Homo sapiens: one gene and its partners. The protein of the gene in region 1 interacts with the protein of each later gene in a pairwise test. Each region holds a gene or a part of one and is shown on either strand. Other genes may lie near its edges.

Evidence for each region. Proteins that work in one complex are often made in the same cells at the same time.
Region 2: the proteins of CCDC90B (region 1) and PCDHA4 interact in a two-hybrid assay, tested with the Homo sapiens proteins (one large-scale study listed by BioGRID and IntAct).
Region 3: the proteins of CCDC90B (region 1) and RGL2 interact in a two-hybrid assay, tested with the Homo sapiens proteins (one large-scale study listed by BioGRID and IntAct).

The regions. Positions count from the first base shown.
Region 1 is NC_000011.10:83,276,368-83,279,867, reverse strand, and holds part of CCDC90B (coiled-coil domain-containing protein 90B, mitochondrial isoform 1 precursor), read left to right. Parts: intron 1-1,038; coding exon 1,039-1,142; intron 1,143-3,500.
Region 2 is NC_000005.10:140,981,568-140,985,067, forward strand, and holds part of PCDHA4 (protocadherin alpha-4 isoform 1 precursor), read left to right. Parts: intron 1-907; coding exon 908-996; intron 997-3,500. Other genes in the region: PCDHA1 (protocadherin alpha-1 isoform 1 precursor), read left to right, coding at 908-996; PCDHA2 (protocadherin alpha-2 isoform 1 precursor), read left to right, coding at 908-996; PCDHA3 (protocadherin alpha-3 isoform 1 precursor), read left to right, coding at 908-996; PCDHA5 (protocadherin alpha-5 isoform 1 precursor), read left to right, coding at 908-996; PCDHA6 (protocadherin alpha-6 isoform 1 precursor), read left to right, coding at 908-996; PCDHA7 (protocadherin alpha-7 isoform 1 precursor), read left to right, coding at 908-996; PCDHA8 (protocadherin alpha-8 isoform 1 precursor), read left to right, coding at 908-996; PCDHA9 (protocadherin alpha-9 isoform 1 precursor), read left to right, coding at 908-996; PCDHA10 (protocadherin alpha-10 isoform 1 precursor), read left to right, coding at 908-996; PCDHA11 (protocadherin alpha-11 isoform 1 precursor), read left to right, coding at 908-996; and 4 more. UniProt on the Homo sapiens protein: Calcium-dependent cell-adhesion protein involved in cells self-recognition and non-self discrimination. Thereby, it is involved in the establishment and maintenance of specific neuronal connections in the brain.
Region 3 is NC_000006.12:33,296,143-33,300,279, reverse strand, and holds the start of RGL2 (ral guanine nucleotide dissociation stimulator-like 2), read left to right. Parts: upstream 1-1,337; 5' UTR 1,338-1,410; intron 1,411-1,628; 5' UTR 1,629-1,669; coding exon 1,670-1,825; intron 1,826-2,282; exon of another isoform or gene 2,283-2,387; coding exon of another isoform or gene 2,388-2,482; intron 2,483-2,936; coding exon of another isoform or gene 2,937-3,066; intron 3,067-3,164; coding exon 3,165-3,248; intron 3,249-3,503; coding exon 3,504-3,682; intron 3,683-3,815; coding exon 3,816-3,866; intron 3,867-3,954; coding exon 3,955-4,137. UniProt on the Homo sapiens protein: Probable guanine nucleotide exchange factor. Putative effector of Ras and/or Rap. Associates with the GTP-bound form of Rap 1A and H-Ras in vitro.

The DNA.
Region 1 (3,500 bases):
CTAAAGTCCGTGTGGAAGTACAAATGTTTGAGATTAAAAAATAAAAAAAAAGCACAAAAAATTACCTGATATCAAAACAGTAATTTAAATTATGTGATATTAAAGGAATAGACTAATAGAACAAAATGGTATTAAGAGACACAGACATGAATTTAATATGTGATGAAGGCATTACAAATTAGGGAAAGGAAGGACTATTTAATAAATGAGACATAATAAGTGACTAGCCACTGGGAAAAAATATATTAGATCCCCTTATTGAAAACTAAATTTCAGATAGATGAAAAGCTAAATGTAAAAGAAGAACAAGCAGTTTTACAGAAAAAGGTGGGCAAATGCTATAAACAAGCAGAACACAGAAAAATAAATATAAATAACAAAAAGTATATGTAATGCTTAACCTCTCTACAAACCAAGGAAATGCAAATTTAAGTAACATTAAAATAACAATGCAATACAATTTTTTATGCCAATTACACACTCAAAAAAAAAGTCATATCCAGTGTTAATGTAGATGTGGGGAGATACAGAATGAGAATTAAAATTTTAGAGTTTGTTTTTTTGTTTGTTTTTTTTTTGTTTTTTTTGAGACAGAGTCTCGCTCTGTTGCCCAGGCTGGAGTAAAGTGGCGCGATCTCGGCTTACTGCAAGCTCTGCCTCCCAGGTTCACACCATTCTCCTGCCTCAGCCTCCCGAGTAGCTGGGACTACGGGCGCCCGCCACCACGCCTGGCTATTTTTGTATATTTAGTACAGATGGGGTTTCACCGTGTTAGCCAGCATGGTCTCAATCTCCTGACCTTGTGATCTGCCCACCTCGGCCTCCCAAAGTGCTGGGATTACAGGCGTGAGCCACCATGCCCGGCCTAAAGTTGTAGAGTTCTTTTAGAGAGTAATTTAGTATTATCTGTCAATTTTTTAATTGTAACCATTATTTAAAAGAGTATAACAATTTAAATGTTGAGGAGTTACTCTTGCTGTCTATTTTGATAAGGATATACACTTTAAAAAAAATAAAATACCTATTTGCTGCCTACAGGATTTGACAAAACACAAGCAGAAACAATTGTATCAGCGTTAACTGCTTTATCAAATGTCAGCCTGGATACTATCTATAAAGAGATGGTCACTCAAGCTCAACAGGTAATACACTGATTACTATCACTTCTGATACTTTCATTAGACAATCATTTCATAACTATGTCTCTGTCTACCTACTGACCTTCCAAACATGCTTATATCTTCCTTGTTCTCTCTAAAGGGACCACAAAAAAAAACATTGAATAAAGTCAGTATTTAGAGAGACTGAATAGTTAGAATAGTTGTAATAATATTGTGGTAACAGAGAATGGTATTTTGCCAAATCTTTGATGGGATGAGATCATTATATTGTGTTATTCATGAGTGGTGGTAGATTGTTTGTGAAACAACTTTTTCCCTCTAGAAAGCTCACCACAGAAGAGCTAATCTTTCTATATATTCAGTATATTTTATTGCTGCTATACATACACATTGGTTAATTTTCACAGACATAGCTGGAAAGGACTTAGTTGGCTGGGAGGGACTTTATAAATTCCCTGGCTAAGACGCCTTAATTTAACTGAATATAAAAATCCTTAAAGTCAAACATAAGAATTTAACATGTAAGTGGCACAATGCTATGTACTTTTCGTATATTATTTAATCTCTAATAACCTTGAAAAGTAAGCAGAATTCTATTTGGCCACTGAAGACAGGCTCAGAGAAATTGAGTAGTTTGCAAGAGTTTTCACTGTGGTGGTATGGACAAAAAGCAATAATTTTATATAAAGGACTGAATAAACTAAATGAACTTAACTGGAATAATAATTCATTTCTGTCAGTCATGAAATAATGTATTATGTTTAGGAATCTGTTTTCTTCCTATGGTTATATTTTTTTCATTTTAATTTTTCAAATTTAGGCTTCCTTCCTCAGATAAGTATTTTACAGCACAGAGAAAAATCAGGATTTCTTATATAAAATTAGAATATTTTGCATAAAATTTCATTAAAGGGTCATGGTAGATCAAAAGATCTTACAGATTTCTACTATGGCCAGGTGCCGTGGGTCACACCTGTAATCCCATTACTTTGGGAGGCTGAGGTACACAGATCACTTGAGGTCAGGAGTTCAAGACTAGCCTGGCCAATAAGGTGAAACACTGTCTCTACTTGAAAAAACAAAAAAAAAAACAAAAATTAGCCGGGCATGGTGGTGGGCACCTGTAATCCCAGCTCCTCGGGAGGCTGAGGCAGGAGAATCGCTTGAACTGGGGAGGTGGAGGTTGCAATGAGCCAACATTGCACCACTGCGCTCCAGCCTGGGTGACAGAGACTCCATCTCAAAAAAAGAAAAAAACAAAAATTAAAACTGTAATCTCCAATTATAGTAGACAAATGTCCAATTAATTAGACATTTAAAATTGAAACATTCAATCCCTACATTTAACTTACCTTTAAGTTTGTACATGCATTTTTAGGATCATAACAGACTACTAAATCCACTAAAGAAAAAGCCAAACATCTAATTAGTTACTCCTAAGCTCCGAGCTGTCCTGAAAGAGCTATATGGAGCTACTGATACTTTTAATAAAGTAATTTTGTCTTAAATTTTTAAGTTTACCTATAATATAGGGAGTGAAATAAAGCTGTGATTTGAGGAATATTTGTGCTGCCAGGACCATTTAATCCTATATACAAGAGGTAGGATTGAGTATAGAAATATCACTATTAAACTTTTGGCTTTTTTATTACTGCTGTCTGAAGTTAAATAATCCTGTTCTGTTCTTGAACCTAATTCAATTGCTGACCCCACCTCTAGTATAGAATAAGGCACAGAGATGTCATGAAGGGTGAAGCTAAGGCTCAGGGTCATAGGCCATTAAGCTGCATACTTGATCACTTCAGAAAGGGCCATATGAAAACAAGTCAGCTAGCAGGATGAGGGGGAAAAAATAAAATAATAAAGTCTTATTCTGAAAATTTGATTATATTGTGATTTTGATTAAAATCTGAATATTCTCTGATGGCTCCATAGTAGTTTAAAAAAATCACACTTTTAATAGATTTAGCTACTTAACAATGGATTATGTGTACATTTAAAGTTGTTACAGATGGACACCTGTGCAGTTTTGTAGGCTTTTTGAGTCTGTATTTAAAGGAAGAATGAGGTAAAAAGAGGCTCTTAAGAGCCACATTAAGGCTGGTGTGGTGGCTCACGCCTGTAATCCCAGCACTTCAGGAGGCTGAGGTGAGCAGATCACTTGAGGTCAGAAGTTCGAGACCAGCCTGGCCAACGTGGCAAAACCCTGTCTCTACTAAAAATACAAAAAAATTAGCCAGGCATGATGGTGGGTGCATGTGGTCCCAGCTACTCAGGAGGCTGAGGCACGAGAATCACTCGAACCCAGGAAGTGGAGGCTGCAGTGAGACAAGATTGCGCCACTGCATTCCAGCCTGAGTGACAGAGCAAGGCTCTGTC
Region 2 (3,500 bases), on another chromosome or scaffold:
TGTCTCAAAAATAAATAAAATAAAACAAAATGTTCCTCTAATTTTGATGAGGGTTTTCTTGGACATTTTCTCTTAGGATCCCACTTATTTCTTCCTTCCTTTCTTCCTTCCTCCCTTCCATCATTCATTCATTCATTCATTCATTCATCCAACAAATATTTGAGAGATTAATATGAGTTAGTATTAGACATACATAAATGAATACTGCACCATGTTCTCTTTTCCCTTGAACAGTTTATGTTCTATCTCTGCTTGCCTCTAAAGGTCTCCCAGTTTGTATCTCACTCCCAGCAATGTTTTATGCTGAATTAATCTCTTCTGAGCGGGGATCTGTGAGTGGTGGTGATCAAGTTTCTCTAGTCTCAGGAAATATAGGGTGGGTCATCTATGCATAAAAGATATAGAAAGAGTAAAATAGAAAATAAGGTTAAGAATTAATTAGATAGCCAAATTGGAACAATACTCCAATTATCAGAAAATATTTTAGTGTGTTTTCTTCTTTAGAGTAGAGAACCTAGGAACAAGAGAACCTGCAAGAGAGGCTTGGAACTTTTGAGAACAAGCCCTCCTCATCTGCTTCAGTATCGAGATGTTAAAATGGCTTAGTCCTCTGATGGGCTTCCTGTTAGATTTAGTGAGCGCCACATGGCGTTAATAAAAAACAGAATTGCCATAAAGATAGAACATGTGTGTTCCTGGAATAGTATAGCAGGCAATAAGTAAGTCAGCAATGCTTCTGCAGTTTATGCAGGGTGACTGCTCAGCAGTAATTGCTTCAGTTCAAGCATGAGCAGAATGTGTTAGCTGCAGCCCTGGCTTCATAGTTGTAAGCAATTTCTGAGGGTGGAAGAAGAGATGGGAAAGAATTTATGATCTAACCGTTATCTGGGTCTGTGTGTTTATTCAGCTCTGTGCACCTAGAGGAGGCTGGCATTCTACGGGCTGGTCCAGGAGGGCCTGATCAGCAGTGGCCAACAGTATCCAGTGCAACACCAGGTAAAGAGCTGGGGTCTCTCCATTCTTTCTTGGTTTCTGGAAAGTGATCAGATGACCTACTTTTGTAAGATCAGGAATGTTGATGGCTCTTTTTCTTTTATATTTTTGTTATTCCCTTTTTTCCATACATACATGATTTCCTTACATATATGATTATTTTGATTTTATACCTAATGCTCTTCAGGAGTTGAAAAAGGATAACAAGGAAAGTGTGTGTGCACGCATGTGTGCATGTGTGTGTGTGTGTATGAAGTTTTTGGGGTTTGTTTGTTTGTTTAAATCAGGTACCTTTCAAATGCTTAGGTCATCCAAGCCATGCAGAGAAGATCTGGTGGCCTTATGCACAGAGATGACACTGTTAACAAAGATCTTTTGGTTGAAGACTATGGAAACCCACCCAAAGTAGTAAGGAAAGAAAGAGAAAAAGAAGGAAAGAAAGAAAAAGGAAGGAAGGAAGGAAGATGGTTTCTCATGGAAGTGGAAAATTATCGGAACCAAGGCATTGTTTTGAGTTCAAGTCAAAGTCAATCTGCTTCTCTCTGCACATCAACAACATTCTGCAGACTGACTTTTAGTGCCTTGGCATGCATGTTGCCAAACATGACCGCCTCACAATTTCTTAGTTTAGAGGGATAATAGGGACTATTTCCTAATCCAAACTTTCAGGAAAGAGAACCTGCTAAGTTGTGTAAAAAACCTAATGGCTGGGTGAGTATAGGAAAATTGCTTAAACTCACATTTGCTTGGTATCCTTATTCTTGCCCTATCACTAAAGCAGGGTCATGTAATAGAAATATGGCTTTGGAGGCCCATCGCTGTGGCAGTTTTCAGAAAGGGAAGATTAAGTGTTGGTAGAGACCACAAATTGTGTCTACTCTAATCCTCTATTAATAGAACATCATGATGATAATAGTAGTTACTAATTATTAAGCCATAATATGCCTAGACACTGTGCCAAGTACATTGTATGTGTGGTCTCATTTATTCCTTAAGTCAAGCTTGCAAGGGATTTATTACATCTATTCTACATATGAGAAACTGGAGAGGCAGAGAGATTAAGAAATGTACCCAAGTTCACGTAGCTTGTAAGTGGCAGAGGGTAGGATTCAAACCCAGATGTGTTTAGTTTCAAATCCAAGTATATCTAGCACTTATATTCATAACATGGCTGGCTTGCAATAATCCATTCAAATTCAAATACATATCTACATACATAACAGATGACAGAATGTGTGTGTAAAAGGTTTTTTCCCAAAAATAATCAGATGCCTTTCAAATTATTAAGTAACATGCAGCTAAGGGCCCATTTTTACTGGCAACTTTAAGGGCATTCGTTGATTCTAATCAGCCAGGATTTGCTATTTATGGATGTTGCACAATTCAACTAAAAGTCACATTTGTCCAAAAAATATACGAGTTGAAGCAATTCATTAGAGAGCTAATATTGCCAGATTGCAAGGGGAAAAACATAAAATAGTTCATTGACAAATCTGTACCCTCAGTGCCAACGATGGAGTGAAGAAATGATGGAGGAGGAAGTGGTTTTAGACTGCCAAGTGTTGCAGGATGTGGAGGCATCTGGGAAGGTGAGAACTTCCCAAAGAAGCCACGTGAAATCATGACTTTCTACCTTGCCTTTATTTCAGAGTTTTTCTTGCTCTTATGGAGGCATTGTAGGTCGACCTGGTAAGCCACAAACTAACTTTGAATACATTCTCCCTCCCATTGGTGATGCTGGTTGGTGTGTATTCCTAGGCAAATGTGGAATAGGAACCATGTATTGATATTTCATACATCTGGCCAAGTCCCTCTTTCAGATTCAAAAAATGTTGAGAACCTATCTTTTTTACAGAGATAGAGAAGGGGATCTCCCTTGTTCCCTTTCTTACTGTCCCAGCCCCTCTTGTATAACCCATTTTATCCAGAACTGTGCCTGGCTGCTGATGCATGAGTCACAGTCTTCATGGACTGTGCTGGATAGAGCTTACATCTTCCAACTACTCCATGGCAACCTAATCATACTTTTCAATACATACCTCTGCATCAGTGGTGTAAAGTTAAAGGGATTCTCTGCCTTCTCCCTGTCCTTCTGGTACTTTTAGGTTTTTAGGACTCAATATATGTTCTGCACTGCTTGGAGGGAATATGGCATAAAGATTAAGATTATGATTTAGAGTCAGATTTGAGTTGAATTCTAATCCCAAGCTTACTTGCTGGGTGAGCATAGACAAACTGCCTGAATTCATATTTTCTTAATTACCCTTTCTGTAAATTGGGTGTAGTAATAATAATAACACCTATTTTATTGAGTTACCATGAGAACTAAAGGAGAAAAAAAGAACTGAGCATAGTGCTTGACATATAGTTAATAAATGTCTAATCTTTTTTTTTTGAGACAGAGTCTCGCTCTGTCCCCCAGGCTGGAGTCCAGTGGCACGATATCGGCTCACAGCAACCTCTGCCTCCTGGGTTCAAGTGATTCTCCTGCCTCAGCCTCCTGAGTA
Region 3 (4,137 bases), on another chromosome or scaffold:
GAACCCGTACTCTAGGGCCAAATCCATTCTTCTTGCCCTGGCTCACTTGTCCCCCCCACCGCCCCGCGCTGGAGCCACTGCCTAGTTCTTCAGCCCTAGATGGTGCTCGCCAGACCTCCTCTCAATGCTCATCACACACAGGGCTATTCCTTTCCTCCAATGAACCAAACGCCTCCCGCCCACCTCCAGGTCCCAGTCCTCTGTTCCCTTTGCCTGGTCCACCCTTGCCCTCCCTGGGTCGCAGACGAGGTCGGCCTCGTCATTCCCCGCAGACCGCCGCGCGTCCCTCTTGTGCGGTTCACCACAGTTGTATTTAAGTGATCGTGTGAGTCGTCGTTAAATGCCTGTCTCCCCGCGGATCATGGGCTCCTCGAGGACAGGGACTGGCCTGTCTGTCCACTGCTGTAACCCCGCGCCGGCATAGGGACCTAAGGCCCACTGGAGGGCGCTCATCAAGTAGCTGCTGGATGTTGACGAAGGAAGCGGCGGCGCAGCTCAGGGATCTCCGAGTCAGGACGGTCGGCCAGACCCACGGGGTAACGGGTCTAATCGTGTAGGAATAAAGCTGTATTCCAGTGCTTCCAAACGGTTCTCTCATTCCAACCCCTTTCCAAGCTCAATGAATATTCCAATCACCTCTGGTCCCTTCCAGTGACCCTGAACCGCTCAGAGAACGCCCCGTCGACACCGTTCGGGGCGGGCGCCACTACTGGCGCATGAGATGCGCTCAAGCAGAGGGTACTCCACCAGCGAGGATACACCGAGCCGACGGGGATCTCGGTCTCGGCGCCGGAAGCCTCTGAGAGCCGAATCTGGAACCGGATGTGGCTGCTTCCTGCCCCGCCCCCTGCCGAGGGGGCGGGAATCGAGGGCCCTTCGGAAAACCCGGCCGGGATTTCGGTCAGCTACATTCGTGGGTTGTGGTAGGGAGGGTAATCCCGTGGGGATGGAGTGACCGGCTCTCTCTCCGCCTGAAACGCTTCCCGCGGGAGTTTTAGCCGTGTTATTGTTGGGGAAGGGAATGTCAAATTCTGCTCCTGCCTTCCCCCAGGGGCTGGAGACTGGAATCTTTATTCCAGTTCATTGCGGGTCGACGTGGTCTCCAGAATCCCCGAGTGTAGAGGCGGAGGACAGTGGAGCTGGGGACTCGGGCGCCTGGGTCCTGGTCCCTGAGCGTCCAGCGCTCCCCTAGTCCGCGGCCCTGGCTCCTGTCCTCACTTCCTTCCCCTTTTGGCTCCTGCTCTCGGAGCGGGCGGACGCGGGGGGGAGCGGAAAGGGCGGGAGGGCCCAGGAGCCCGGCGGGGGGGTTCAAGGGGGTACGGAAAAGCCGGGGAGGGGACTCGGTCCGGGGCCGGAGACCGACGGCAACAGCGGCTCAGGACCCACGCTGCCCCCACCCCTCCCGAGCAGGTCAGAGCCTGAGCACCCTGCGCGTCCCCGTACTCGTGACCTCCTCCTTCCCCAACAGCACCAAGGGCCCCCCTATTCCACCCTTCTGTTGCCCCCTCCCCCAACCTTCCTGCAGAACTCCCTTCCGGTCTTCTTGACACCCACCCACGTCCCTTCCCTGCCCGGTTCCCCCGCGCCTGCCTGACTCTCCACCCCCACCCCACCCCGTCTCTCCCCAGGCGCCCCCATGGCCCGACCCCGCTGATTCCTTCACTCGGCCATGCTCCCGCGGCCCCTGCGGCTGCTTTTGGACACGAGCCCCCCCGGGGGAGTCGTACTGAGCAGCTTCCGAAGCCGGGACCCCGAAGAGGGTGGGGGCCCAGGTGGCCTGGTCGTGGGCGGGGGGCAGGAGGAAGAGGAGGAGGAAGAAGAAGAGGTGAGACGCGGGTGGTGGGAGGTAGGGGGCGTATGTATTTCTGAAGTCTCCACTTTTCTCTTGTCTCTGGGTCCCTACATCTCCTCCTCCTTGCCTCAGTTATTCTCGCGCCTCCCTGGGTGTCGGCCCGTTTCTCTGCTGCGGGGAGTCCTGGCGTCTCCGTGGTTCTCTGTCAGTGTGACTCAGGACCTGCCCGCAGGAACCTGCCCTGTTCCTGCCTGGAACTTCTGGCTGGCTGTCCTGTCCCTGCGGGTCTTTGGCCCTCCACCTCTGCCTGCCTGAGTGTGCCTACCTCTCTGAGCAGTCGTGTCTTGGTCCCTGTCTCCCTCCTTGTTTTTGTTTGGCGGGGAGGGGTTTGTTTCCACAGTAACCAGCTCCTCTGACTCTGGGATTGGGGAGGGAACCCTCAGATTTCGTGACCCCTCCTTCCCTCTCTCCCCCTTCCCCCCGCCCCCCCGCCCCGCCCCGGTCCTGGGTAGAGGCCGGGAAGCCACGGTTCTGGGACCTGGAGGAAAGATCCTAGGGTGGGTAGAGAGTGGTCATCTGTTTTCATTAGGGATTAATGGTGGTGGCCAGGAGCAGGATTTCGGGCCTCAGGAGGGGCCAGAATTTGGATTTGGGGCCCCGAGGCCCTAAACTCCTAGGTCCAGATCCTAGGTGAGGGCAGGTTGACTGGCAGGGCTGGTTTTTCGGGATCGGTCGGGGGAGGGGCTGGGGCCACGTGACTCTCTGAGTCTACCGCCCCCAACCCCCTATCATCCCACTTCCCCTTTTCCTTCCTGTACTGGGATTGGAGCTGCTACCTTCGGGGGTCCCTTAGGGCTGAGATAGTGGAGGCGCTACCCGAGGGACCAGGGTGAAAGGGGTCCTGAAAAAGACTAATTCTCTGGGCTGGTATAGTCCTTGGCCGGGAGGGGCGGGGCATGCGGCAGTGCCTGGACTGAGGTTTCAGCTACCCCTAGTCGCTGCCTCTGGCTTGCTGCCTCTCGCTTCCCTCTCCTGCCCTTTGTACCCTGCTTCTCTGTCGTGTGTGGGTTCAGCTCTGGGGAGAAGGGGCTTTGGGGGTCTCCAGGATCAGAATTCCTGTACTCCATCCACGCCTCCACTGCAGCCCCTTCGACTCCACCGGGGCCCTGAGGCGGCTGGGGTGGGGCTGTCTGGGCCCCAGTGGGGGAGACCTGGGGTCACCAGCTCCCCCAACCCTTCCTCGCACTCGCTGGTACTATGCCCTGCCACCACAGGTGAGGGGTACAGAGGGAGGAGCAGGGCCTGGGGTGAAGGCTGAGGGCAATGGGGGGTGGTGTGGAACTGTCTGACTTCCCCTTCCTTGCTCCTCCAGGCCCCTGTGTCCGTCTGGGATGAGGAGGAGGATGGTGCCGTGTTTACCGTCACAAGCCGCCAATATCGACCTCTTGATCCCTTGGTGAGATCATGACTTTAGCTTCTCACCTCTGACTCTTCATTCCCAGTTTTCCTTCCTCTGGCTGACTTTCTGGCCAGAGTGCTAGGTTGGAGTTCTGGAGTCCTGGACTCTGCTGTGTGACATAGGCCAAGACTCTTGCCCTCTCTGAATATCAGAAAAATGAGTCTGGAACATCTCCTGGGTCTGGGATTGTCCTCAGAAATCTAGGTGCAGAGTGGGAGAAAGGGTTAGCGATCATCTCTCTGTGTTCTCCAGGTCCCTATGCCTCCCCCACGTTCCTCCCGACGGCTCCGAGCTGGCACTCTGGAGGCCCTGGTCAGACACCTACTGGATACCCGGACATCAGGGACTGATGTGAGCTTCATGTCAGCCTTCCTGGCTACCCACCGGGCCTTCACCTCCACGCCTGCCTTGCTAGGGCTTATGGCTGACAGGTCAGAGTCATAAGGGACGCAGGGTAGTGGAGTATCTGCCCGGATTTCCTAAAGCCGCAACATCCCACCAAAATAGTCAAAGCCACTGAGGGTTTGGGAAAAATGGACAGATAGATCCTCTTCTCCCCCTCAGGCTGGAAGCCCTTGAATCTCATCCTACCGACGAACTAGAGAGGACAACAGAGTGAGTGACCCCTGGTTCTTAATCTCACAGTCCCCTCTGCCCAGGCTGCAGCTTTACCTCTCACCCTTGGCTGATTCCCTTCTCCCAGGGTAGCCATCTCTGTACTGTCAACCTGGCTGGCCTCTCACCCTGAGGATTTTGGCTCTGAGGCCAAGGGTCAGCTTGACCGGCTTGAGAGCTTCTTACTTCAGACAGGGTATGCAGCAGGGAAGGGTGTTGGGGGGGGCAGCGCTGACCTCATCCGCAATCTCCGGTCCCGGGTGGACCCCCA